2 separate regions of the Homo sapiens genome follow, and region 2 is linked to region 1. The links come from fine-mapping of genetic effects on gene expression. A gene starts in region 1. The other region holds a variant in brackets. All regions are shown on one strand. Distances are between the middles of the regions.

The links. PIP is the estimated chance that this variant, and not a neighbour inherited with it, causes the effect.
Region 2: its variant is fine-mapped to the expression of DDT in monocytes (Fairfax 2014, PIP 0.95).

What each region holds. Positions count from the first base shown.
Region 1 is chr22:23,970,230-23,982,701 of GRCh38, reverse strand. It overlaps DDT (D-dopachrome tautomerase), which reads left to right and starts at 8,261. Exons shown (of 3, transcript NM_001084392.3): 1 at 8,261-8,395; 2 at 8,759-8,934; 3 at 11,079-11,332. The coding sequence starts at 8,288. The coding sequence ends at 11,151. DDTL (D-dopachrome tautomerase like) reads right to left here. Exons shown (of 3, transcript NM_001084393.2): 3 at 10,146-11,416. The coding sequence ends at 11,296. It also overlaps the pseudogene GSTT2.
Region 2 is chr22:23,913,846-23,930,788 of GRCh38, reverse strand. It overlaps the pseudogene KLHL5P1. Among named protein-coding and RNA genes, the nearest start is that of MIF-AS1, 23 kb to the right of the region's middle. The variant C/T (reference allele first, on the strand shown) is at 9,763.

The DNA.
Region 1 (12,472 bases):
GAGCCTGCAGGTCAGATGGATACCAGTGGTCCGGCGTCTGGTACTTACAGCTCAGGTAAATCAGGATGGCCGAGCTGGGAACAAATGGGCAGTGGCTATAAGGACACTGGCACCAGGCATTTACCCCTAACTGCTCCCATCTGCCAGTGGGGCCCGGGGGCTTCTCTGCATTTGAAGGACTGCCCTCCAGCCTCGCCCTCCATCTCCAGCTCCCCAACACCACCCCCTCCTCCTACGAGTCTCCTCCTGTCTTTGTTGCCTTGGGCACCGACTCTTGGCTGGACCTTCTGCTTTGCATTTTGAGAACCTCATCTCTGTGATATGCCAGCAGCCGCCCTGTGAGGTAGACACTCCTGTTAGCCTTTTAGCACAAGAGAAAACTCAAGGTCAGAATGGTCAAGTGACTTGTCCGAGGCGGTGCAGCTCAGAATAGGCTCCCTGGACCCCTGGAACCCTGCATGGGGCTGGCACACAGTGGATGCTCCGTGGAGTCCCTTGCATGTCCACGCGCTTGGGTCAGGGATCACGAGGGGAGGAATGTCTTTGGCCCCCGTCTGACAGGCCCCCAGCCATCACCTCTGCAGCCACCTGACCTCTTGTCCTTTTCCTGCCCAGCAGCTGGACCTCACCATGAGCTGTGCCCTTGGGCCATGGCATTGGCCTCTAGGCCCGGCCTGGGTAGATTGGGTAGTCTGCGACAAGTCACTAGAGGCTCTTTTCAGCTAGCATTTGTTGAACAAATGCGCAACAGTGGAAAAATGTTCCCTTGTCTTCTCTTCTAATACCCTTCAGTCTGGGAGTGGAGAGGCCCTGCGGCTCAGAAAAGGCTGAAGATGAGAGGTGGGGGGACATGTTCTGTCAGCCCCTGCTCATCCCGGACACACCCCAAGCTGTACCTTCTCCCCAGATACCTCTCCTTTCTTTCTTTCCTTTTTTTTTGAGACGGAGTCTCCCTCTGTCGCCCAGGCTGGAGTGGGCTCCCTCTGTCACCCAGGCTGGAGTGCAGTGGCGCGACCTCTGCTCATTGCAAGCTCCGCCTCCTGAGTTCACGCCATTCTCCTGCCTCAGCCTCCCCAGTAGCTGGGACTACAGGCGGCCGCCACCACGCCCTGCTAATGTTTTGTATTTTTAGTAGAGACAGGGTTTCACCGTGTTAGCCAGGATGGTCTCGATCTCCTGACCTCGTGATCCGCCCACCTCGGCCTCCCAAAGTGCTGGGATTACAGGCGTAAACCACCGCGCCCGGCCTTTTTGAGACGGAGTCTAGCTCTGTCGCCCAGGCTGGAGTGCAGTGGCGCGATCTCAGCACACTGCAAGCTCCGCCTCCTGGGTTCACACCATTCTCCTGCCTCAGCCTCCAGAGTAGCTGGGACTACAGACGCCCGCCACCACGCCCGGTTAATTTTTTTTTCCATTTTTAGTAGAGACGGTGTTTCACGGTGTTAGCCAGGATGGTCTCGGTCTCCTGACCTCGTGATCCGCCCGCCTTGGCCTCCCGAAGTGCCGGGATGACAGGCGTGAGCCACCGCGCCCGGCCAGATCCCTCGCCTTTCCCCTCCCTCGCTGCCCCATGGGGTATGGGAGGGCCATTGGGGCCCGGGGCCAGTGGGGAGAGCCAAGGTCACATGGGCTCCGGATGCGGTGAGGGGTGAGGGAAGGAGGGCATCTTTCGGTCAAGATGAAATCACCATCCTTGAGCGTCGGCAGTTTCCCCAGGCTGTTGATCTGCAAGAACTCCTTGCTCTTGTGCTGCCCTGAAGAAGAAGAAGTCAGAAAAGGTCTTCAGAGTAAAAACGCTGCACCTCTACACCCTCCCTCCTCCTCCCCAAGCGGAGCCCCACAGCCCTGAGAAACAGCAAGGTCTGGGACTAGAGGCCTGGATCAGCCTCACTCCCTGGCTGGGCCTCCCTGCCCTGCCACATTCCGGGGCAGCTGGGGGGTTTTGGTGGGTGGGGCCAGGTGCAGCAGGTGGATAAAGAGAAGTTTTCTAGCCGGACTCTGGTGGGCCAGGGGAGGGGAGGCAAACTGGGGTGGCTCATCTCTTCCCATCTCTTAATTCTCACAACAGTATGTCCTTCTTCCCGAGGTCTTCTGGGCTTTGTGAATTTATATGCGTGCATTCCACGCAAGAACTCTGTCAACTCCATTCAGTATTTTCTTTCCATCCCTACAGAGCAGAAGGTAACATTATCCTCCTTTTCAGAAGGCAAGCTAAGGTTCAGAGAGGCTGTGATCCCTTCAAGGCCACTCAGTCCACAGCATTCTCTGGTGGCAGACGCTGCAGGAGGAGGTGAGGGGGCTGTGCGGGCGGCGAGACGCTCAGGGCAGAGCAGGGCGGGGGCCTGGGGGTGCACTGGGTTTGTGGACACGCGGGGAAACGGGCTGGGCCCACCTTTGACCAAATCCACGGTGCGCAGCTCTAAGGGGATGCCATTCTTCTTGGCGAAGATGTAGACGGCGCGGCTGGGCTGGGACACCAGGTCAAGAAACAGCTCTAGGCCCATGGCGGGGGCGGCAAGGACAGCGGGGATGGCAGTGAAGGCGCTGAGCGCGGTGTGGGCAGCAGCTGTGGCAGGATCCCGGCGCGCCGGGAAATAGGGGATCAGGCCCCACCCCCTGGGGACAGCACCCAATTGGAGCGCACCACCCCCGGACCCGCCTCGCCCCTTCGGTTCCTGTCCAGTCCTGCCGGCCAAGACTCCACCACCAGATCCGTGCGTCCCTACAGGGAGGGCGGTCGCTATGAACGCACAGCTGGGAGGGTGGAGTTGGAGCTGGGGACCCTCGACTGGCAGGGAGGACGCGGATGCAGGGGGCCGACTGCAAGGGGAAGGGGAACCGGCTGGACAGGGAGAAGCAGGTCTGCTTTTCGGGATCCCGGTGCCAGGGACCCTGCCCAGTTCCAGGCGTCGCCCTGACCCAGAAACGACTGGGCGCCGCCGTCCTGGAAAGGCCCCAGCGCACGGACATCTGAGGGTTCGTTCAGAGCTCTGTTTCTCGGCGCTGCATGGTGGCGGAAGGGAGGGAGCGAATGGGATCCCCTAAAAGGGATCTTAGAGTTTCACCCAGTGGGATGTGACACTTGCAGGTGTCCCAAACTGGTGGGAACCTTGACTGGAAGGCTGGGGTTAAGGATGAACTTTCTGCCGTCCAGACTGTCCCCTGCAGAGCAGCTGCTGCCAGACAGCGGGAGCTGCCAGACAGCGGGAGCTCCCACTTCGTGCACAGGATGGGGGCAGGGAGCCCGCAGCCGCGGGAGGCAGGAATGACTGTCCGGGAACCTCCTTTCTTCTCCCTGAATCCCAGCCCTGGCATCTCACCAGGGGGCACAGTGATGGTCCAGGGCTGGGCCCGGGACTCTAGCTGAATCTTTCAGAGTATCCCATCCCTCTGGCCAGTGGCCCAAGCGAGTGAACCAGAATGCTTCCTTGGGAGTTTTGAAACTGGAACTGGAGAGAGGAGCTCCCTATGGGGAGGTAAACGGGAGCTGGGGCCACCTGTAGTGACATTTCCTGAGTTCGAGGAGTAGACGAGACTGAGAGAGAAAAGCTGACTCAGAGAAAGGGAGTGATAACAGGGCATGCTGGCCCACACCTGCAATCCCAGTTACTCTCACGGGATCTGTTTCTCTGATGTCTGGGTATGAAAGGACTTTCTAAGCCTCAGAACAGTGGGAGAACTCAACAAAGAAAAAACCAATACATATACAAGGTTACTTTGTGGAGGAAAAAATGGATTAACCTTAAGCAAAAAACTGGGAAGGATCTCGGTAAAAGATACGTCAGAAGGAAGTAATGTCCTTTAAGATGTTCTTAGAAACCCATCAGACAGGTAGGGTGTGGTGGTTCACGCCTGTAATCCCTGTACTTTGGGAGGCAGAGATGGGCGGATCAGTTGAGGTCAGGAGTTTGAGACCAGCCTGGGCAACACGGTGAAGCCCCGTCTCTACTAAAAATACAAAAATTAGCTGGGTGCGGTGGCACACTCGGGAGGCTGAGACAGGAGAATCACTTGAACCTTGGAGGCAGAGGTTTCAGTGAGCTGAGATCATACCACTGCACTCCAGCCGGGCCACTGAGCGAGACTGTCTCAAAACAAACAAACGAACAAACAAAAAGAAGAGAAACTCATCAGACGAAGACACAGGAAAAAAATGAGCGAAGGAAATCAGCAGAGGTTTCATTGAAGGACAAAGAGAAATGGTCAATACATGGATGAAAACATGTTTAACTTCAGTAATAATCAAGGAAGCACACACCAACACAACATGCACATACTGTTTTTATTTATCAAAGGCACACATATTTTTGAAATGAGTACTCCTAATTAATATGTACAGAGCACTTACCCAGTGCCCAGCACAGGGGTGGCACCCTGTGTGTGAGACAGCATGAAACAGGTAGACACGCGCCCTGCTGAAAGTAAGGGACCGCCTCTCTGGAGGATCCATCGGGCAATAAGGAGGTTTCCACACCTTAACTGTGTCTGCCTTGACCTCTGGGGCCTGGGAGCAGAGCCCCCTCCAGCTGGTGGGGAAGGAAGCGTGGTGTGTTTGAGGACAGAATGGAGAGAAGTTGAGTAGAGCAAGTGTAGACTCTTCCTATCCAAAGTGTGGTCAATGGACTGGGAGTATCAGCATCACCAGGGAGCTTGTTGGAAATGCAGAGGCTCAGGCCCCACTCTGACCTTACTGATTGGGAGCATAAACTGTAACCAGATTCCAGGGAGGATTCATACACACATTCCCGTTTGATAAGTGGGGGGTAGTAGGAGGTGAGGTGAAAAGTGGGGAGGGGATGGCTACCGCACTGGAGAAGGCTGGCTTTGTGTTGAGGCCTTTCTCATGAGGGCAGTGGGGAGCCATGGAAGGCTTTATGCAAGAGAGGGTACGGGCAGATTGAGATTACAGAAGGATCCCACTGGTTGCCTTGTGTGAGGACCCAGGGAGAAGGGGGAGGCTGTCCCTGTTTGAGTAGGAGATGAGAGCTACTGGTGGCTATGAGTGGAAAGAAGTGAGCAGAGGTGAGCAGAAATCCCAAGGACTGGTGATGATAGGATGATGGTGGGAACCAGGATGGGCTTTGGGCAGACCCTGACCCCTCTCTCTGCCTGTCGGCCCACCAGATAATAATCCCTGTGTTCCTGGGCGAGTCAGTGCCACCCGAGATGTTGGCGGCCACTTTGGCTGAGCTGGACGGATGCCTGCAGCTGCTCGAGGACAAGTTCCTGCGGGACCAGGCCTTCCTTACTGGGCCCCGTATCTCTGTGGCTGGCTTGGTGGCAATCACGGAGCTGAGGCATGAGAGTGCCATGGGGTGCGGTGGCCCGCTGGGCAGTGGTGTATCCGGGAAGGGAGCTGACATCCCAGCTCATGTTGTCTTTTCTGGCTGTGGGACCCTGTGTGAGTCACTTCTCCTTCTGAGCCTCAGTGTCCTCATCTATAAAATGGGGCTTTACAAACCCCTCACCGCAGCTATATTAAGAGGCTTCCAAGTGTCCCCAGGGAGGGGGACATCCTAGCCCATCACACACATGGTGGAGGAGGGAAAATCCAATCAGAGAACCCCTAAAGCAGGTCATGCTGCCTTACACTTGGCTATGCCCAGCCCCTCCGCTGACTCTGTCTTCCCCTAGCCCATCAGTGCTGGCTGCTGAGTCTTTGAAAGCAGACCCACGGTGGCAGCATGGTGCCCAACACGTGGAGGCTGCAGTGCGGGAGGACTTCTTCCAGGAGGCCCTCCCAGCTGTCCTGAAGGCCAAGGACCTGCCTCCAGTAGAACCTGCTGTTAAAGAGAATCTGAAGACCTTAATGCAGCTTTTCTTGCTGTGAGTGCGTGTCCCACACTTGCTGAGCCACTGAGGGGATGCTGTGTTGGTAGAATAAAGACATGGAGCTGTCCGTCTCCTTGGTTGAAGAGAAGACATATCTGCAAAGGCTCTGGTCCACAGTTCCTCCAGATATCATGCCTGCATTCCTTTTGTCTCCTACCCCATTCCATTCTAGCTTCCATGTGACCTCTGAAAAGAGCTTGGGCAAACGCTTACTTGACCCTGACCTTCTGTGTGGAACTTTGTATGGTTCCTCACTGCCCAGAAGCTAAAGTACAAGTCATTGAACTTTGCATTCAAGGCCTTGCTCCCACTCCTCCAGGTGGCCCCTTCTGCCTGCACACTCCTAACCCCTCTCTGGGCTCCCACCTTGGCCTCTTGGCCTCCGCTCATGCTGTTCCCTCCTCATCTTCGCCTGGTGCCCTTCCTGGTCTTTTGGCATTTGGCACCCTGTCTCTTCTCCAGGGAGACTTCCCTGACCTCCCCAGCCCCAGTCCAGGTCAGGCGACCTCTCTGGGCTCCTCAGCCCCAGTGTTTCCTTGCGGGGGATACCCCCGGACTGAGCATGTATCATCGATGAGGGGTGACCTGGTGGAAAGATGTCTGAATCAGGATCAGCCTTGGTCTCCTCGGTCTCTCTCCTCACTGTGGGGCGATGTTGTGTTCCACAAGTGGGGTGCAGGGCTGGTTCATGAACCTCCTTGCAGGAAGGGAAGTCCCTGGTTATTTCCTGGCCCTCTCCCATGCCTCCTCATAACCTTGACCACAGTCTTCTCTACACCCCACTCCCGGACCACTGGCTTGTCCATGCCCCACACCTGGTCCCAGACTTGCCACCTGTCCCTGCCCTCTCCCCTTAGGACTGTCATATTTACCTGTCGTGTGTCTCAGACCTTCTGATATCTGAGTCATCTAATAAACAAACTGCTAATAGGACAAGATCATGACAGACAGAGACTCTGTCGGCCTTTCAGTGGAGGCTCCTTTAAGTATGCACACTTATAGAGAATTTTATACACGTAGTTGAAATTGTACATATAAACTTGCAAATTTTTTCTTTCTTTTTTGTGGGGGAGGGGGGAGCCTGGGTCTCACTCTGTCATCTAGGGTGGAGTGCAGTGGCACAGTCATAGCTCCCTGCAGCCTAGATCTCCTGCGCTCAAGCAATCCTCCTGCCTCAGCCGCCCAGGTAGCTAGGACTACAGGCACACACCACAGCACCCAGATTTCTTCTTTTTTTTTTTTTTTTTGTAGAAAATAAAGAAGAGAATCTTGCTATGTTGCCTAGCCTGATCTTTAACTCCTGGGCTCAAGCAATCCTCCCTTCTTAGCCTCCCAAAGTGCTGAGATTACAGGTGTGAGCCACATTGCTCGACCACAACTTCAGTCATATTTGTAATGTACAATTCAAGTGATTTTGCCACACTGACCACACTCATGTTTAAGCCACGCCAACAGAGTTCCATGTTTTCTGATGTTTTTTCGAGATGGAGTCTCGCTCTGTCACCCAGGCTGGAGTGCAATGGCGCGATCTCGGCTCACTGCAACCTCCACCTCCCCGGTTCAAGCGATTCTCCTGCCTCAGCCTCCCGAGCAGCTGGGATTACAACGTCTGCCACCACGCCCGGCTAATTTTTGTATCTTTAGTAGAGACGGGGTTTCGTCATGTTGGCCAGGCTGGTCTCAAACTCCTGACCTCAGGTGATCCGCCCGCCTGGACCTCGCAAAGTGCTGGGATTACAGGCGTGAGCTACCGTGCCCGGCCTTTCCATGTTTTAAAGAACATATTTTGCCACCCCCTGGTGGACAGTGGCTCACCACCGGCACAAGAGGCTACACAGGCAGATGTCAATGGGGACCAGGCAGGGACAGGTATTGTCGTGAGCCTAGCCCTACCCGCGCCCCCGCGAGTAACCACATCTCCTGACTGCCCAAGCGCAGATTTCCATACTGAACATGAAATTGCCTGACTTCGAAATGGTGGCAAATCATTCAAAAAAACTTTAAGCTCCCGTTGTATTGGTTATTAGGGTCGAGCCTGGGGAAGACCCCTATAGGTGTGTGTGTGTCCTTGTGTGTCGGGGGTGTGGTGTTCAGACCTCTAATAGGGCTAGGAACCGGGCGACCACAGCGCGGAAGCTTGAGAGGGAAACCCACCTGGCGCCAGGCAGGAGGGTCGGGGGAGACAGGGTGGGTCCACTACCGGGTTAAAGACCTGTAGTGGGTGGGGCTACACGTAGGGCGGAGACGATGGGACTTCCGGAAATCAGCCGGCACACGTGACTTTTGTTTGCAGAAGCGGGAGGTACCCTAGGCAGCCAATCGGGGAGCGCCGAGTCTCTGTCCAGCCAATGAGAAGCCAGGTTGCTGTGGCGCCTCGCCCCTCCTCCCTGGTCCGCGAGCCTTGGGTACCCCCAGCTTTTCTTCCGCCAGAGCTGTTTCCGTTCCTCTGCCCGCCATGCCGTTCCTGGAGCTGGACACGAATTTGCCCGCCAACCGAGTGCCCGCGGGGCTGGAGAAACGACTCTGCGCCGCCGCTGCCTCCATCCTGGGCAAACCTGCGGACGTAAGCGTGGGCCGGGCAGCACGGGGCGAGGGGAGGTTGGTGGGCCAGGGGTCCGGCCCTGTCCCTGCTCCGCCTCCCCGACAGTGACCCCGAATCTTTTCCCCAGGGACCACTCCCCACTCCTTTCCTCACGCCAAGCTCTGACTTTCCGTGCTCCACGATCCCGCGGCTCCCCCTCCGCACGTCTTTCCCTTGTCGCCCTCCCCAGTCATGACCCGGGCGTGACCTTCAGGGACCGCGGCCCGTATCGGGATCCCTGCCCCGCGAACACTGCGCGTTTCGGCTTTCGCGCGCTCGGGTCCCGTCCCCAGAGGTAGCCCGGCCGGCTCCAACTTCGGGCAAAACTTTTCATGTCCCCCTCAGCGCGTGAACGTGACGGTACGGCCGGGCCTGGCCATGGCGCTGAGCGGGTCCACCGAGCCCTGCGCGCAGCTGTCCATCTCCTCCATCGGCGTAGTGGGCACCGCCGAGGACAACCGCAGCCACAGCGCCCACTTCTTTGAGTTTCTCACCAAGGAGCTAGCCCTGGGCCAGGACCGGTGCGTAGGGGTAGTAGGGGATCCATGTGGGACTGCCGCAGACTGGAGCCACTGATCCTGCCTCAGGGGGAAAAACCCATTTCTTGCCCTGCCCAGTAAGGACACATCAGGGTCTGGAGCTTTGGGGCCCCCTGACCCCTTAGGTTCCTGCTGTTAGGACCATCTTCAAAGTGCGAGCAGGATTGAATGAATTTCTGGCTCTGCTCCTCAGTGTGTAAGTCTGTGAACCGGGAAGGCTCTCTTTTAACACCCCCGGGGCAGTGCAAGGGTCATGTGGGATTGTCTGTGTGCTGTACCTGCCTTGGCACCTGACAGGGTAGGTACACGTGGCTGAAGTGTGATTTTCTAGAACTTTTCCAGGCTGGTCAGAAGGAATTCTGGGTATGTTCTGAAGTTACGTATTTTGGACCTGTGTCCCAGCCAGGTTCCAGGTGAAGTTCACGGGAGACTCACAGAGTAGTGAAAGACCATTGGCCTGGATGTCTAGACATCTGCTTTCTGGGTCCTGCATAGCTGGGGGACCCCAGACAAACTTGGAAATGAACCATCTCCAGTTGGCAACCTCCTCTTCTGTGAATACAGGGGAAAAGACCTCCCTCCCCCACAAGAAGCGTCTGCAACCCAAACCTGGCGTTCTGTGACCGAGTTAAAGTTTCCTCTTGGGTAAAAGATATTCTTGAGCCACATCCATGTCTAGGAGGAAGTAAGGGCATGAGAAGCTTGAAAGGACACTGTCCAGGCACGGTGGCTCATGCCTGTAATCCCAGCACTTTGGGAGACCAAGGCGGGAGGTTCATTTGACCCAGGAGTTGTAGACCAGTCTGGGTAACATAGTGAGATGCCATCCCCCAAAACAGTTTTAAAAATTAACCGGACATGGTGGTGTGCACATGTAGTCTCACTTAGTTGGCAGGCTGAAGTGGGAGGATGGTTTCAGCCCAGGAGGTTGAGGCTGCAGTGAGCTATGATTGCGCATTGCACTCCATCCTGTGTGACAGTGAGACCTTGGCTCACAAAAAAAGACCTTCTGAAATGGAGCCTTTGTTAGTCCATGAAGGTCGATGAGGAATGGCTGATCCTGCTGGGTCCTCCCTCAAGCTACAGAGGAATAATACAGTCAGCCCCCTGTATCACTGGGTTACGCATCTGTTGATTCAAACAACCATGGATTGAAATATTAGAGGAAAAAAAATTGATAATTGCATCTATACTGAAAATACGTATAGACTTTATTCCTTGTCATTATTCCCTAAACAATACAACTATTTACATAGTACGTACATTATATTAGGTATTATAAGTAACCCAGAGATTATTTAAAGTATATGAGAGGATGTGTGTAGGTTACATGCAAATATTACACCATTTTATGTAAGGGACTTGAGCAAATGTAGATTCTGGTTTCCTCTGGGGATTCTAGAACAAATCTCCCACGGATACTCAGGGAAAACTGTTACTCTAACAACAAGTGTTATACACTTACCATGTGCTAGGTCCTCTACAGGTACTTTACACTCATGATCCCATTTGATCCTTACAATCCCTATCCACTCTCCCTTTGCTCAGACAAGACATGCTATCCCCATGAGGTAGATAATCTCCATTATGCCAATTTTATGATGAGAAGACAGGCTGTTCATACTCCCGCCCGCCCCAACCAGGCTGTCCCAAGTTCTGGTTTTCCTCACTGGAAACTTGCTGTTACCTCTGAGAGGGGCATGTTCACTTATGGCCCAGACATTAGTGGCGGGGTTGGTGGGGTGGGGGGTCACCCTGTGCTCAGCCTTTGAGAAAACAGGTGGCTGAGGTACTGTGCCCTTAGGGAGCCTGCAATTAGGAGGCAGGGTACCCCTCAGTACACAAACTGATGGAGATGATAGAGTGTACGGCACACACACCGAGGCTACTGTATTGTGTGTCTGTCCTAGCTGGGTCATGATGTGCGGCTACCTCCCACACCTGAGTGTCCCACTGCCCTGCTGGGGGTTGGGGAAAATCATTATTGGGATGAGCAGGTTTGCAAAATGCCTGGTGGACTGAGGCAGGCTGTCCTGAGTACCCACAGTGGGAGTACCTGGCAGGGGTCTTGCAAGATGTGGTATTAGCCAAGGAGCTGATGATATCTTTTTCTCTGTCTCCTGAAGGATACTTATCCGCTTTTTCCCCTTGGAGTCCTGGCAGATTGGCAAGATAGGGACGGTCATGACTTTTTTATGATTGGGCACGGAGGGATCCAGGGCATCTGTGAACTGGCTGCTTCTTCCAGAGAGATCTCTTGGCAGAGTGAGGGCCTGGAGATAACCAGCTTTGGATTATCCCGCATGCAACATTCCTGTGATCACATAATCCTCTTCTTCATCCTCATATGAAATAAATGAAGAGAGCTTCCTCATTCAAACATGACTTCTTACCTTCTATTATCTCTCCTGGGCATCTGGGGCCACCATGGGCAGCAGGGCTGGTGGATAAGACCGTAGGGAACCTGGAGGGGGATGATTTAGACTGCTCAGATCTGGGGCTGGGAGACTCAGCCTGGAGGCTCTGCTCTCCACACCCATCTGCAGGCCTGTGGGAAGGTGTGAGCAGCTGGTCCAGCTGGGGCCTTCCTGCAGACTGCTGACCTGAGGCTCCTGTCCTCAGCCCCAAAATGGGACCAGACCTCTGTACTCCTCCTGAAGTCTACTCCCTCCATGACTGGCTGGGCAGCCTGCCACGCCACTCTCCCCTTTTCCCCACTGTAGAGTGGAGGCAGGGGTTGCCTGTGTCCCTTTGGGGGTTGGTCGCTGGTTTTCCAGAAGCAGGGTCCCCAGTCTGCCCCTCCTCCTCCCCAGGGTTGCAAGCTTCGACTCCCTCCCTTTGGCAAGACTCAAACCGTCCTCCCAGCTGCCCCATCACCCCTTCCTGGCAGTAGCACCACTTTTCATAACCTTTCCAGCCCAGGGGTCCCCAGGCTGGGAGGACAGCTGGGGGGATGAATGGCAGGTAAGGCTTCCTGTGTCTTCTCTCCTGTTGCAACTGTGCCACCTGCACACTTACACACTCATGGACACACCATGCACATACACACATCCACCCGCATCTAGTCACGATTCATCACATTCACACACATATACAATCATACCATTTACACACAGTTAACTCATGTACACACACATATACACCCAGTCACATAATTCACTCACATCCAACAAAGTCACACAACTCAAATTCACACATATAGACCAAATCCCCACACACGTACACACACACACACAATCACAGCATTCACTGACATTCATAGTCATCACACAGTTCACTCACACACACACATACTCCCCGTCACACACAGGCACACAATTCACACCAACAAAATCACAATTCACTTATCCACCCACATACTCAAATTCACACTGCTCACATTTACACACAATTCACTAAAATTCACGTATACACCCATGTACACAGTTCACTCACATCACACACATATACACCCACACATAAACACACAATTCACTCACACACAGTTCACTGACATTCGCACACATACACACGCACCACA
Region 2 (16,943 bases), 54 kb after region 1:
CACCAAGATGCAGAAACCGGTAGTGGCCCCAAATGCCAGGCTGTGTTGATATTTATTGGATACAAGACAAAGGGGTAGGGTAAGGAGTGTGAGCCATCTCCAATAATAGGTAAGGTCACGTGGGTCATGTGTCCACTGGACAGGGGGTCCTTCCCTCCCTGGCAGCCGAGGCAGAGAGAGAGAGAGGAGAAAGAGAGAGAGAGCTTACACCATTATTTCTGCTATCAGAGACTTTTAGTACTTTCACTAATTTGCTACTGCTATCCAAAAGGCAGAGCCAGGTGTACAGGATGGAACATGAAGGTGGACTAGGAGCATGACCACTGAAGCACAGCATCACAGGGAGACAGTTAGGCCTCCGGATAACTGCAGGCGGGCCTGACTGATGTCAGGCCCTCCACAAGAGGTGGAGGAGTAGAGTCTTCTCTAAAATCCCCTGGGGAAAGGGAGACTCCCTTTCCCGGTCTGCTAAGTAGCAGGTGTTTTTCCTTGACACTGACGCTACCGCTAGACCAGGGTCTGCTTGGCAACGGGCATCTTCCCAGATGCTGGCGCTACTGCTGGACAAAGGAGCCCTCTGGTGGCCCTGTCCGGGCATAACAGAAAGCTCGCACTCGTCTTCTGGTCACTTCTCACTATGTTCCCTCAGCTCCTATCTCTGTATGGCCTGGTTTTTCCTAGGTTATGATTGTAGAGCAAGAATTATTATAATATTGGAATAAAGAATAATTGCTGCAAACTAATGATTAATGATATATATATAATCATATCTAAGATCTATATCTAGTATAACTATTCTTATTTTATATATTTTATTATACTGGAACAGCTCGTGCCCTCGGTTTCTTGCCTCGGCACCTGGGTGGCTTGCCACCCGCATGAGTAAGATGTGCTTGACTGAATAAATGAGATCCCCAGCTAGCACTGGGCTATGTTCCAGAGCAGTGCATCTGTCCTAATATGTTACATCAGGAATGTTTGTTCACAATCCACCAGCTGCAGGTTTTCATTTACTAAGAATTGAAAGCAATTAATCCTGGTCCATCCACTCCTTCCTCCGTTGTTTTACTATCTTTGCTTTGAGATCAGGTACTTTGTGCCCAGGATTGTGGCAATGCATGTTTACTAAAAATGCATCCATTGATGGTAGAATAATTGTACTAAATTAATAAAGGAAGAGAGTGTCTTCATGTAGAAAACAGAGCACTAAATTATAATTTTACAGTCACAGCACAAGCTCCAGCTCTTCCTAGGCACAGTGGAGCAACCCGGGTCCACTCTTTGTCTGGGATCATGAGCCTCCACTGTATTCAGGTATGCCTGTCCATCATACCTCCCAACAGCATAAAACTTATCAACAAGTAAACAGACCTCCACTGCATCTCTGCTGATGCTCATTGATTCTACTGTAGTCCACATGTCTGTTTTGGGATCAGATGTCTCCACACAATCTGAGAGTCTGGAAGTCAAGTTGGATGTGAGAGCATCATGTTCCCCTATAGCATACAGCAGTCCGCTCCGGGTCGTTACTCCTATGCCACCTCTCCTTTTTGACATCCGTGCACACAGTGTCCATGTTGGGGTGATCAGGCCTAACACCAGGCCGTGGGGGCTACAAAGTCTGGCGGGGTCAGAGGAATGTGAAAAGATAAGTTAAAAGTGCATAAAGTGGGTCCGGGGGGCCGGCACTAGATTGAAGGCTGCAAAGGCCCCGAGCTCTGGGAGCCCACACTATTTATTGGTGATCAAACAAAGAAGCAGGTGGTGAGGATGTGAGGGTAAACAGGTGAGGGCATGAGAACGTGGGGATAGAAAGCTAGTGGTGCATTAAGCGTAGCTGTGACAGCTTAGCACTTCCTTTGATGCATGTAGAATATGCTCTGCTACTTGAGATAATGGAGGACATGTTTACGAGTAAGAAGCAAGGAACCAACAAGTCTGTGCACATTCCAGAGGCTATGAGGAGTTTTATGCCCTGAGCCCTGGGTTCCATCCAAGCCACACGGGGTTTTATGCCCTGGGCTTAGATTTGTGTTGCGGCAGGGCAGCCTTCCACCCTATGGCACAGAGCTTGGTGTACCAAAGGCCATGAGGGGTTTTAGGCCGTGGACCCCGGACATCTTTCAAGACTCTTTTACATTATGACAGACAAGCCAGTCCTGCCTCAGCTCTTCTACCAACAGTCCACTCACTAGTATGAGGATCAAAACATTCTACTGATTTGAGACAAGAACTTGCATCACCACCACCAACTGCATTAAGTTTTCCACTTAGCACTGCCACACCAACTGTGCTCCTAGGAGTAGACACAGTGGCAACAAAATTCCACTGGCGAGCCTGAGGGTCCCAAATTTCCGCTGTGTTCAGATGGCCCCAGCCCTCATGCCCTCCTACGGCATACATGGGACCTTCCAGTACAGCCACACCAAGGCCATGTCTATGTGTGGACATAGGTGGCACCACACTCCCTGTTTTTGTTTTGGGGTTGTAGCACTCTACAGTATTCAAAGTCTTCAGTCCATCTCTTCCTCCAACCACATACGGTTTGTCATCTAGCACTGCGACACCAAACTGTAGCCTCCTCTCATTCATATTTGCTACTGGAGTTCATGTATTTGTACAGAGGTCATACTTTTCAATGCTTGTTGCTCCTTTTGTTGAATCCATTCTCCCAACTGCAAATAATGTACCAACAGTTGATTTCCTAGATTTTGCCTGAGGACTTTGTAACGTGGGTCATCTCTCTGGTAATACATGGTACTTCATTGCTTCCATAATGAGTTTCTGACATTCTATATTATCCCAAAAAAGTACATTATTTTCCATGTCTGCCAGGAACTGTGGTGAAAGAAGAGGTAGCCTAATATTAGCCAAAAGTTTACTTAGATCTTTCCATCTCTGTTCCAAATCATGACAGACCCAAGTAAGAAGTGGAGTCAATATTGTCTCATCAGGAATGTTCATGTCATCACTAGTCAAGAACTTTGCAATTTTGCTGGCTGGTAATAATACAAATTCCTGGTTTCTGATTACTTTCATGAAATGCTCAATAGTATAATTGTGAGCCACTTTATGCAAATCTGTACAACCTTAGGCATCAGCAAAAGAACAAATTCCAAGACAGCTGGATGGGTGAAGCTGTTTCATTAAAAACTTATGACATGTGGCCTGGTGCCCTGGCTCACGTCTGTAATCCCAGCACTTTGGGAGGCCAGGGCAGGCGGATCACCTGAGGTCAGGAGTTCAAGACCAGCCTGGCTAACATGGTGAAACCCCGTCTCTACTAAAAATACAAAAAAGTACCTGGTCGTGGTGGCAGGCGCCTATAATCCCAGCTACTCGTGAGGCTGAAGTAGGAGAATTGCTTGAACCTGGGAGGCGGAGGTTGCAGTGAGCTGAGATCTACACTGGGCGGCAGAGCGAAACTCTGTCTCAAAACAAACAAACAAACAAAAATTTACAACATGCTTCTACAGCCTGTGAAAGCTGAAGAAGGCAAGCTGTAGATAGCAGGCACTCAGTATTATCTTCTTTTAATTCAAGGCGGGTTGTATAAGCATATTGGATCAAGGACCACGATGAATTTGGTTCTACACCTTCCATTTTTATGTCTTCTTGTCTTGCTTCTCTGACATCATTAGTAAACATGGCAGCAAAATAGTCTGAGCCAGAGGAGAGCACCAATCTGTGAGCTGGAATTCTGCCATCACCAGCAACTAAAATTACATCGCACAACTGTTTATGTCTCAAACAGTTTTCCATTTTTTTAAATGTTTGTTCGGCATAATTCAGGGCTTGGAAAAATTCATGATGAACATGGCTCCATAATATGACAGGATGATAACGTCTGACTACTACTGGAAGTCCGCGTCGGGCTCCGGAGGGAGTCACAGCAGGCCAGGGTGGAGGAGTGGGGGAGGCGAGGGCAGAGAGGGATGCTCGTGTGCCCCCAACCCCTTCCTGGCAGCCTCATCTACGGCGTTGGTGGCCCCAAGCTAGACAATCTTGCTCCATCAGGTGGCACCAGGCGGTGGGGGGTGGGTGGTCAGAGTCCTCAGGTAGCCCCAGAGGGGTGGGTGAGTGGATGGGGGTCCAGACTGGCTCGCCTATCAGTCCCCGCACTGCGCAATCGGCTGCCCACCCAGCCCACACAATGATAAGTATTTTTGTATGTAAACATATCTAAACATAGAAAAGCTACAGTAAAAATATGGTATTATAATCTTTTTTTTCTTTCTTTCTTTTTTTTTTTTTTTTTTTTGAGACAGGATCTCACTCTGTTGCCCTGGCTGGAGTGCAGTAGCATGATCATGGCTCACCGCAGTCTCGACTTTCCTGGGCTCAGGTGAGTCTCCCACCTCAGCCTTCTAAGTAGCTGGGACTACAGGTGCGCATCACCATGACTGGTTTATTTTGTATTTTTTGTAGAGACAGGATTTCACCATGTTGCCCAGACTGGTCTCAAACTCCTGGGCTCAATGATCTACCCGCCTCTGCCTACCAAAGTGCTAGGATGACAGGTGCGGTGGCTCACCGGCATTATAATCTGATGGGGACACCATTGTATATTCGGTCCATCGTTGACCAAAACATTGGTGACAGTGCATGCTTTCTTCTAAAAGCCTTGATTTACACCTAATCTCCTGGTCAAAAAGGATGGCAAGGCTTGTTAGTTGGCAGAAGCTATGCCCTTTTTACCTGTTGATGATTTATATGCTCCAAGATTACTAGTTAGTTCCTTTATGTAGCTGTCATAGCATCACATTGTTCACTTAAGAAGTCCCCATAATCCAGGGATCACTCAATGCAGGAATGAAAGGTTTAGAGATGCCAATAGGCAAAGGGAAACCAAGCACTATTTCAAAAGAAGTTAATCCACGCCTCCCATTTGGAGCATTCTAAACTTCATAAGGGGTAAAAGGCAACAAGAGGTAATGTTTTTCCTCCCTTCAATTCAGTTTCCTGACAGATTTTTCCTAACGTCTTTTTTTCTTTTTCTTTTTTTTGAGATAGAGTCTCACACTGTCGCCCAGGCTGGAGTGCAGTGGCACAATCCTGGCTCACTGCAACCTCTGCCTCCCAGGTTCAAGTGATTCTCCTGCCTCAGCCTCCCAAGTAGCTGGGATTACAGGGGTGTGCCACCACCCCCAACTAATTTTTGTATTTTTAGTAGAGACAGGGTTTCACCATGTTGGCCAGGCTGGTCTTGAATTCCTGACCTCAAGTGATCTGCCCACCTGGGCCTCCCACAGTGCTGGGATTACAGGTGTGAGCCCCGCACCCAGCCTGTTGAATATAAAAATGCTCCAGGAATAAATGCTTGGTGCCACAAAGTGAAACCAGCACTCAGGCAAAAGTTTTCACAGCAAGGCAATTTACTTCTGCAGAAGGGTGCCACTCCCGTCAATCAAGATCGCAAGAGCACACCAAACAAAGGGGAGCAGGGGGTTTTTATCTCTGATGCATAGTCCTTACCTCTGTGTCACTCCCCCATGGGCTGGGGTTGGACTGCACAATCTGAGCTGATCCAATTAGCTACTTGCAAATATTGTTCTAAATATGGAAGGGAAAGTGTACGTGAGGTACAGTGGTGAAGCATGTAAGACATGCAGTTTTGGGGGAACAACGCGTACAGATAACCAAGGGAAAGGATGTGAGTTATTGATTAGAGCTGGTGGGAAGGGGGTAAGCTGTTTTACAGTAACTAGGGGCAAGGAGGAACAGGAAAGTTAAGTTTGAGAACAAAGGACAAGGAAGTTAGCAGGCTAAATCTTTGAAGAGAAACTCAGAGAAATTCATTGTATCTTACACAGCCTAATGTCCTTTTTATGTCTAAATTTTTACATTTCACTTGAGCTGAGGATTGGGGGTGGTATGGGGTGTGAAATTTTAACGAGTACCCCAAAGGAGTTTTTTTTTTTTGCAATCGAATTGTTTATTTCTGCTGTAAAATGAGTTCCTTGGTCTGACTTAATCTGTAACAGAAAGCCAAAATGAGAAATAATCTCAGTTATTAATTTCTTTTTTTTTTTCCAACATGGTCTCTCACTGTTGCCCAGGCTGGAGTGCAGTGGTGCGATCTCGGCTCTTTGCAACCTCCACCTCCCACGTTCAAGCAATTCTCCTTGCCTCAGCCTCAAGTAGCTGGGATTACAGGAGCCCACCACCACGCCCAGCTAATTTTTTTGTATTTTTAGTAGAGACACAGTTTCACTATGTTGGCCAGGCTAGTTTCAAAATCCTGACCTCATGATCTGCCCACCTCTGCCTTCCAAAGTGCTGGGATTACAGGTGTGAGCCTCCCTGGCCAGCCGAGTTATTAATTTCTTCACCAGTGTTGTGGTATCAGCACATCCAGTCCGGTGGCATTCAATCCATCCACTAAACATTCAGACAGTAACCAAACAGTGGGAATGCCCTAAAGCCAGAAGTAAATCAACAAAATCCATCTGGAGTCCTGCAAGGGGCAGTGTGGGCCTTGGAGGACTCCCCGAGGAATGTTGGTTTCCTCCAGAGATTCCATGAGATTTATAAGTTGTGCACTGGGAAACAGTGTGGCCAGAAGTTTTGTGGATGCCAGGGTAGAACTAATTATATTTTAGTTCCTTTGCTATCCTCCATCTCCATATGTCCCATTTGATAAGTGCAAGCCAAAAGGTCAAAAGAAAGGAAGCCACGGGAAGTCTATTTGGTCCAATGTATCATCTGTCTGGTAATTATTTGCTGTCCTTTTGAATTCATTTGTCTTTTTCAGATTGTGGGGCATTTGCCTGGTAATACTAACAATAATCAATAATATCAGTCAGGGATAAAGACACAGATAAATTGCATGGAAAAAGGATGGTGGGGGGATCCATTTCTGGCTGTGTATTTCGCTGCCTTGTTGGCCCTATCATTCTCTAGAGATACAGCATCAGGGCCAGGTGTGGTGGCTCACGCCTGTAATCTCAGCATTTTGGGAGGCTGAGGTGGGCAGATCACAGGATCAGGAAATCAAGATCATCCTGGCAAACATGGTGAAACCCGTCTCTACTAAAAATACAAAAATTAGCCGAGTGTGGTGGCATGTGCCTGTAATCCCAGCTACTCGGGAGGCTGAGGCAGGAGAATCGCTTGAACCCAGGAGGTGGAGGTTGCAGTGAGCCAAGATCGTGCCACTGCACTCCAGCCTGGGCAACAGAGCGAGACTCCATCTCAAAAAAAAAGAAAAAAAAGATATAGCATCAGTCTCCTTAGTATGGGCTAAACAATGAGCAACAGCAATTTTTCTTGGGAGGTGAATAGCCTGTAGTAGGGCAAGAATTATATGCCCATTGGTAACAGGAGTACCAGTAGCGTTTAAGAATTCTCAGGATTGGTCATGAATGGTGGCTCATGCCTGTAATCCCAGTACATTGGGAGGCTGAGGCAGGAGGATTGCTCTAGGCCAGAAGTTCAAGACCAGCCTGGGCAACATACTGAGACCCCCATCTCTCCAAAAAAAGAATTCTCAGGATTTCCAGATTGCACCAATGGTCAGCAGACTCCAACTGGAGTTGGTATAAATAGTGGCAGTTTTCCCTTCTGCCAATGCGCAAGCTCTAATAAGAGCTATAAATTCCCCAGCCTGGGGTTTACTCTACTGTGGGCAAACAGGACCTCAAGTGTTTCCTGTGGGGAAACTATGACATAGCAGTTATTGTGTTCCCCCAGAAACCTCGTTTATGGGAGCCATCACAAAATAGGAGTGAGTCTGTGTTGTCTAAAGGGTGCACAACAGGTCTCATGACCTTGAGACCATTTCTATCATTGGAAGGCAATCATGTGGAATGGAGTAGGGTTCTCCATCATCAGGGAGGGCTAATAGAGTAGCCAGATTGTTTTTGTTTTTGTTTTTGTTTTGAGACAGTCTCACTCTGTTGCCCAGACTGGAGTACAATGATGCAATCTCAGCTCACTGCAACCTCTGCCTCTGGGCTCAAGCAATCCTCCCACCTCTGCCTCCTAAGTAGCTGGGACCACAGGCATGTGTCGCCATGCCCAGCTAATTTTTGTATTTTGTGTAGAGACAGGGTTTTGCCATGTTGCCCAGGCTGGTCTCGAACTCCTGGGCTCAAGTGATCCACCCGCCTCAGCCTCCCAAAGTGCTGAGATTACAGGTATGAGCCACCATGCCTAGCCGAGTAGCCAGATTTACAGTGGCACAATGATGTAAGATAATGGAGGGTTTGGTTAATAGGACCTGTTCATAGGTCTATTGCCATGTGGAGAGGTACTATGTCTTATGAACTTGGAAGATGGACAGCATGGGGAACATAACAGAAAATGGATAAGCCTAACATGAGTGCTGGCTTTGTCAGTTACAGAGTCAGCTGCAGCCATCACATGCAGGCATGAGGGCAGGCCTGCTGCCACAGGATTCAATTGGCATGAGAAATATAGGATATATCTGAGAGGCAAAAGGTTGCATAGAATACCTCCAGCAATTCCATTATTTTCATGGTAATAGAAGTGAAAAGATTAGTCAAAATTCAGTAAGCCAACATCAGAGGTATGGGAAATGCTAATTTTAAGGCTACAAAGGAGGTTAGTGCCTCTCAGGGCCAGAAAATGGGTGCTGGGATGGTGTCTTCAAGGAGGGCATACAGAGGTTTGGCAAGGGCAGCAAAATTAGAAATCCATTGGTGACAATAGCCAGCTGTCACTGGAAATTTTTGTAGTTTTTGTTTGTTTGTTTTTTGAGACGGAGTCTCGTTCTGTCGCCAGGCTGGAGTGCAGTGGTGCAATCTCAGCTCACTGCAAACTCCGCTTCCTGGGTTCAAACGATCCTCCTTCCTCAGCCGCCCGAGTAGCTGAGACTACAGGTGCCCGCCACCACGCCCAGCTAATTTTTTGTATTTTTAGTAGAGAGAGGGTTTCACCATGTTGGCCAGGATGGTCTGGATCTCTTGACCTTGTGATCCGCTGCCTCGGCCTCCCAAAGTGTTGGGATTACAGGCATGAGCCACTGCATCTGGCTTATTTGTTTGTTTTTGAGACAAGGTCTTGCTTTGTCACCAGGCTGGAATGCAGTGGTGCAATCATGGCTCATTGCAGCCTCAACCTCCAGGGCTCAAGCAATCCTCCCACCTTGGCCTTCCAAAGTGCTGGAACTACAGGCATGAAACCACTGCGCCCAGCCGTATAAAGTTGTTTTTTTTTTTGTTTTGGGGAGAGAGATAAACAAAATTGACTTAAGACATTTGGGGGTGAGCTTCTGAATGCCCTGAGATAGCTCATGTCCCAAGTAGGTAATAGTTGTTTGTACCCACTGAGTTTAGATTAGAAGGCTTCATGGCCTTCTTCAGCCAGCACCTTTAGGAGAAGGAGGAAGTCTGTAAGAGCATCCTGCTTAGTATATTTTCTTTTATTTTTCTTTCTTTCTTTTTTTTTTTTTTGAGACAGAGTCACACTCTATCACCCAGGCTGGAGTGCAGTGGCATGATCTTGGCTCAGTGCAACCTCTGCCTTTCAGGTTCAAGCGATTCTCCTGCCTCAGCCTCCTGAGTAGCTGGGACTACAGGGATGTGCCACCATACCCAGCTACTTTTTGTATTTTTAGTAGAGATGGGGTTTTGCCATGTTGGTCAGGCTGGTCTCGAACTCCTGACCTCAGGTGATCTGCCCGCCTCGGCCTCCCAAAGTGCTGGGATTACAGGCATGAGCCACTACGCCTGGCCTGCTTAGTATATTTTCTTTTTCTTTTTCTTTCTTTTTTTTTTTTTTTTTTTTGAGACAGAGTCT[C/T]GCTCTATCCAGGCTGGAATGCAGTGGTGCGATCTCAGCTCACTGCAAGCTCCGCTTCCCGGGTTCACGCCATTCTCCTGCCTCAGCCTCCCGAGTAGCTGGGACTATAAGCGCCCGCCACCACACCCAGCTAATTTTTTGTATTTTTAGTAGAGATGGGGTTTCACCGTGTTAGCCAGGATGGTCTCGATCTCCTGACCTCAGGTGATCCACCCGCCTCGGCCTCCCAAAGTGCTGGGATTACAGGCGTGAGCCACCACACCTAGCCTGCTTAGTATATTTTCAAAGTAAAAGATCAACATATTGGCAAGAGTGGAACCTTGGGTCAAGGCTACAGAATCTAAGTCAGCTTTAAGAACTTAGGAAAATATTGAGGGAGACTCACAATGTCTCTGAGATGTGTGAGTCCATGTTAACTGTCTCCCTCTCAGTGTAGTTGTATAACCATACCAGATCAATCTGGTTCAACTTTTATGTAACAAAGTTGTGAGCTGCATACCTGGTTCATCTGGGCACAGTCAGGGTAAGTGACCTTCAACCTGAGGATCCACAGCAACTGAAAAAAAACTCACAACTTTGACTTTGTTACATAAAAGTTGAGCCACAGTGGGCACCGTGGCTCACACCTATAATCCCAGCACTTTGGGAGGCTGAGATGGGAGGATTGCTTGAGCCCAGGAGTTCAAGACCAGCCTGGGCAACATGGCAAAAGCCTATTTCTACAAAAAAATTTTAAAAATTAGCTAGTCATGGTGACACACACATGTAGTCCCAGCTACTTGGGAGGTTAAGGTGGGAGGATCACTTCAGCCTGGAAGGTCAAGGCTGCAGTGAGCTGTGATCACACCATTGTACTCCAGCCTGGTTGACAGAGCAAGACCCCATCACACACACGCGCACACACACACACACACACACACAGAAAAGCTGAGCCAGATTCGGTTGGACACAGTTACAAATCCCCCTTGAAACACCCCACCCCTCATTCTTGAGCGGTTAGGGATGAAGGTCATTCTTCTCTGTCTACTTCATGCTGACAGGGAACAGTGAGGCTACTAAAGTTAGAGGAGTGAAATTCTCAGGCTCCTGAGTTCAAATAAGTTTTTTAGTCATCTGAAGTTGCTCAAAGGAGCTGGTATTGCTGCTGTTACACAAAATGAGGACACAAACTGTACTATCAATTTAAAATACAGGGACCGAAAAGTAACAGAACAGAGGCCACTAGAGGCCACAGCAGAGGAAGAAACGAGGTGAAGTGAGGTACAGCAGACTTCACTGCATTCCAAGATAGCTCGTTGGTTGAGCTACCCTTCTGGTTGAAGGAATGCAGCTGTTCTACTTGTTTAAATATTTCCTTTCTTTTTTTTCTTTCTTTCTTTTTTTTGAGATGAGTCACGCTCTGTCGCCCAGGCTGGAGTGCAGTGGCGGGATCTCGGCTCACTGCAAGCTCCGCCTCCCGGGTTCACACCATTCTCCTGCCTCAGCCTCCCTAGTAGCTGGGACCACAGGCGCCCGCCACCACGCCCGGCTAACTTTTTGTGTTTTTAGTAGAGACGGAGTTTCACTGTGTTAGCCAGGATGGTCTCGATCTCCTGACCTCGTGATCCACCCGCCTCAGCCTCCCAAAGTGCTGGGCTTACAGGCTTGAGCCACCGCACCCGGCCCCTTTCTCTCTTTTTTTTTTTTTTTTTTTTGAGACAGAGTCTCGCTCTGTCACCCAGGCTAGAGTATAGTGGCACGATCTTGGCTCACTGCAACCTCTGTCTCTTGGGTTCAAGCGATCTCCTGTCTCAGCCTCCTGAGTAGCTGGGACTACAGGCGTGCACCACCATGCCCAGCTAATTTTTTTGTATTTTTAGTAGAGACCAGGTTTCACTATGTTGGCCAGGCTGGTCTTGAACTCCTGACCTCAAGTGATCCACCCACCTTGGCCTCCCAAAGTGTTGAATATTTCTTTTACATTAGCCTCTATTTCCTCTGGAGGCATTTACCCAAGTGCAACAGGAGGTATTGGTGCCACACACAGCCCTCCCGTTCTGCTAGTAAATAGTCTAAGGCCAATCGCTTTTCTGACACTACATTGGCTAGTGAATTTAGAGAAATACATATATTTTAGAGAGCCTCTCCAGTTTTAGCTGCCAGAGCCTTGGGTATTCAGATTAAATTTCTTAGGGTGACTTCATAACAGGCAACCCCCCCGCAAGAAAGGGCAGCCAACCCCACAGCAAGTCCGGCAGCTTCCATGGTTTGTCCAATAGCCCCCGTCCTTTTTTTTTTTTTTTTTTGGTCTCTTATGATGGCTGGTTGCACTATGGGCTGTTACCCTGATAGGCCCCAGAAGCCCACAGTACACTGTCCTAGGCATATTACATTGCCGAAACAAGGGTGAGCCACTGCAAATACTCTTTTGTAGCATGTTTGCCTCTTTTCTCCTTTTCCTGAGCAATTTAAATAAACTTGGCCTATTCTCTTAGTGACATTGCCCTTAGCAGGTGAGGTCCACACAACCCTGTGATGTTAATGACTCCTCTCAAAGGATTAGCAACAGGTCACCCCATCCAAGTGTGGGGAAGCCTATGGCACATCCAACATTTGAACAGATTGTTCCCACCAGCTGTGATACAGGAGACCTTGATTATTATATTGGCCTCCCAGAGATCACTGGCCAAGGCAACTAAAAGGGCCAAAAAGCAGGCTGGGTGCGATGGCTCACGCCTGTAATCCTAGCACTTTGGGAGGCTGAGGTGGGCGGATCAAAAGGTCAGGAGTTCGAGACCAGCCTGGCCAGCACGGTGAAACCCCGTCTCTACTAAAAATAAAAAAATTAGCTGGGCATGGTGGCGCACATCTGTAGACCCAGCTACTTGGGAGACTGAGGCAGGAGAATCACTTGAACCTGGGAGGCAGAGGTTGTAGTGAGCCGAGATTGCGCCACTGCACTCCAGCCTGGGCGACAAGAGTGAGACTCAATCTCAAAAAAAAAAAAAAAAAAAAAAAGGCCAAAAAGCATAGGGGCCATTTTTAGGTGTTTTATGAAGGGATTTGCCACCACCTAAGCATCTCCACAGTGTAAAAGGGCAACAGCATGAGGGTTCCTGCAGGGATAAAGAAGATGCCTACTATGGCAAGAGAATGGCAAGGGGCACACTTGACTTATCTGAGCCTTTTCTTCTAAAAACCAATTTGAGGTCTGAGATGGGTTCACAAATGTATGCTGGGGAGGCATCTTCTGGGGGCTCCTGGGCTTTCACTCTTTTTTTTTTTTTTTTTGAGACAGAGTCTCTCTATGTCACTCAGGCTGGAGTGCAGGGGTTCAATCATAGCTCACTGCAGCCTCAAACGCCTAAGCTCATGGGATCTTCCCGCCCCAGCCTCCGTGCACCACCAATTAGCGGTGCCTGGCTAATTCTTTTACTTTTTGTAGAGACAAGGTCTCACCATGTTGCCCAGGCTGGTCTTAAATTCCTGGCCTCAAGTGATCCTCCCCCATCTGCCTCCCAAAGTGCTGGGATTACAGGCGTGAGCCACCATGCCTGGCCTCTTCACTCTTGAGTGATGGATCCAAGGGGTTACTTCTTGGAGTTTAAGAGAAGAATGAGTGGTTAAAAGTGTTAGGTTGGGCCCCATCCATAGCGGGCTGAGCTGGTCCTGGGAGTACTCAGCCTTCTGGGTCCTGAGGTATACCCAGTCTCCTGGGTTGTACAGATGAAGTTTTACCCCAGAGGGGACCAGGAGGCTGGGGTTGCTGAGGTGGTTGAGAATAGCAACAAATGACTCCAGATGAATAACATAATATGCTTCATCACCCTTTCTATCTCCTCATCTGGGCAAGAGAAGGGGCTGGCCACGCCTGGATAAGGCCTTACATATTAACATTTCTTTTTTTTTTTGGAGACTGGGTCTGTTGTCCAGGCTGGAGTGCAGTGGCGTCATCACAGCTCACTGCAGCCTTGACCTCCCTGAATTCAAGCAGTGTTCCTCCTTCAGCCTCTCAAGTAGCTGAGATTACAGGTGCGCACCACCACGCCTGGTTTTTATTATTATTTTTTAAATAGGGAGGAAGTCTCACTATGTTGCTCAGGCTGGTCTCGAACTCCTGGGCTTAAGTGATCCTCTTCACGGGTGGGCCTCTCAAAGTGCTGGGAATACAGGTGTGAGTCACCACGCCCGGCCCCATATAATCTTACCTTCCCTCCCCTCGCCTTCCCTCCCCTCCCCTTCCCTTCCCTTTCCTTTCTTTCTTTTTTCCTTTTTTGAGACAGAGTCTTGTTCTGTTGCCCAGGCTGGTCTCGATCTCCTGGGCTTAAGTGATCCTCTTCACCAGTGGGCCTCTCAAAGTGCTGGGAATACAGGTGTGAGTCACCATACCCGGCCCCATATAATATTTCTTTCTCTTTTTTTTTTTTGAGACAGAGTCTTGCTCTGTCGCCCAGGCTGGAGTGCAGTGGCGTGATCTCGGCTCACTGCAACCCCTGCCTCCCAGGTTCAAGCGATTCTCATGCTTTAGCCTGCTGAGTAGCTGGGATTACAGGCACATGCTGCCACACCCGGCTAATTTTTTGTATTTTTAGTAGACATGGTGTTTCACCATGTGGCCAGGCTGGTCTCAAACTCCTGACCTCAAGTGATCCACCTGCCTCAGCCACCCAAAGTGCTGGGATTACAGGCATGAGCCACTGTGCCCAGCCCCATATAGCATTTCAAAGGAGCTAAGTCTCATTCTTTCTCTGAGTGCTACCCATACTTGGACCAAGGCTATGGGTAACAGCTTTAACCAATTATCTTGGGCCTCCTGGCATAACTTGGCTAGGATACCTTTGAGAGTTCTATGGGACCTTTCAGTCTTTCCCAAGGAGTTTGGTCTCCAGGCTACATGCCACTTCCACTGTATGACCAAGGCCTGGGAAGTTTTTACTACTATGTTAGAAATGAATGCGGGTCCATTAGCACTCTGGACTGACTTAGGGAGACTGAATGGAGGGATAAATTCCTTTAGTAAAGACTTCATGGCTTCTGCCTTTTCAGTCCAGCATGGAAAAGCCTCTATCCAACCAGCAAAGGCATCAGAAAAGCACCAGGAGATATTTAAATCCTCTAGAAGACATAGGCATAACACTGGAGTCAATTTGCTAGTCCTCCCCTCACATGGTTCCCCTGAATTGTACCACCTTGGCCAAGGGAGATATGGGAGGTCTGTTTTGAGCATTGTTTCTCTGACAATAGACACATTGGTCAGCCACTTTATCCATCATTTTCTTTGCTTTTGGGGTCCTTATTATCCTGAGGAGCTAGGTGTGCATAGTCTTCTTGCCATAGATTGAGAGATCATGGGCAGGCTTTATAATAGCCCAACTCAGATTTCTGGGCACCCAAATCCTGCCTCTCTTATTTAGGGCCCATCCCTCTGAGAGGGAACTCTGATGCTCTCCCTCTCGCATGGCTTCCTGTAATTCCCCAGGGGAGTGTCTTGGTTTATTGGTTTATATTCATAAAGAGGTACTGAAGGAAGCAGGGACTTTCCCTCCCTGTGTGTGCCAGGTTGCTCCCCTTCATTAGTTCAAAGTCCCCCATTAGATGACCCCCACAATCTGTCTAGTCATTTCCACTGTGCAGTAGTGCCAATATTTATGTTTCATATTTGATTTATTTGTTATTGGCATTCAGAAGTCCCCTTTCGTACCCGATTGCACCATGGGCATGGATCACAGTGAGCACATATCTCAAGTCTGTATAAACAGTCAAGGCCTTGTCCTTTCTTCATGCCAGGGCTCTGGTTAAGGCTATTATCTGAGTCTTTGGGGCTGAAGTTTGGGCAGGGAAGCTTTTGGCCTCTATGGTTTTCCATAGGGAGAGAACCACATATCCTGCCCTTCTTTCGCTCTTCCGTGAAGCTATGGCCATCTACAAACCCTATGTCTTCCTTTCCTTTTTCAACCACATCTCTGCTACAGAGAACCTTGAAGGTCATTTCTACTAAATGCAAGCGGTTAATATTAGGAACTGAGACTTGTGTTTTTCCCAGGCATGTCCTCAAACTTTGGCTAAATTAACCTTTATTGATTGAGACACCTGTCTCAGTCATTTTTTGGTTAACACAATACAGATAAAGTAGGATCCCTATCTCATATTACACATAAACATTAATACAGATGGACCAAAGACCTAAATATGGGGGATGGATCAGTAGAAAATACGGGAGAATATCTCTATGACCTTGGGACAAGGGCTGAGTTTTTAAGCAAAACACAAAATGCTCAAATCATAGAGGAAAAGATTGATAGTCGCCTGTGTTACAATTTTAGATTTGTGCTTCAAAAAGACACCCTAGGAATTAGGGGTGGAAAGGAAGCAAGCCACAGAGTGGGAGCAAATATTTGCAATTAATGCGCTGAACTAGTAAAAGACTGGTATCCATAAAATTATAAAGAACTACCAATCAATAAAAACCACAACCCAATAGAAAAATGGGCATAAAATACAAACAGGCAATTCTCAGAACATGAAAACAGAGTAGTCAATAATTACATAAAGAGAAGTTCAAACTTACTCAAAGTAGGGAAATGAAAATCAAAGTTATAATGAATATTACATTCCACACCCATCAGGTTGGCACGCTCAAACTGTATGTTTAAGATGCTATATTTAATGTTATTACAATCAAACTATGTTCAAGTTTTTTAATATGCTATTACAATCATTATAACAGCAAAAAATTGGCAACACTCCAAACGCCCATTACAAGAGGATGGAACAGGATATAGAGTGGATATTAGCGAATTAGGCCCATACATCTGCGTGGGAGCATCTCAGAGAACGCAGGGGCGAAACGCCGGAAGGGCACACAAACCAAGCCCCGCCCCCGGGAACCCCGCTCCCACACGGAGCATGCTGGAGGCTGATAGGTTGGTTTGACCACGCCAGTTCCGCCTTCGCCTGCCCCCTTAGAGCCCCGCCCCCGCGCGGAGCATGCTGGGGACATACGGACTCACTTTCCTCGCCAACCCCGCCCTCCGGAGCTACCAGCAACAACCAACGGGCAGCGAGCAACGGGCGCGCGCTGCTCCCTTAGGAGGCGGTGACCATCTGCCCGTGTGCCCAGGGCCTCTGAGGGCGCTGGATGGCTCCGTTGTGTCCGGGTGGTCTCGGGAGCTGCAGGGAAGGGGCGGGAAAACTACACCGGA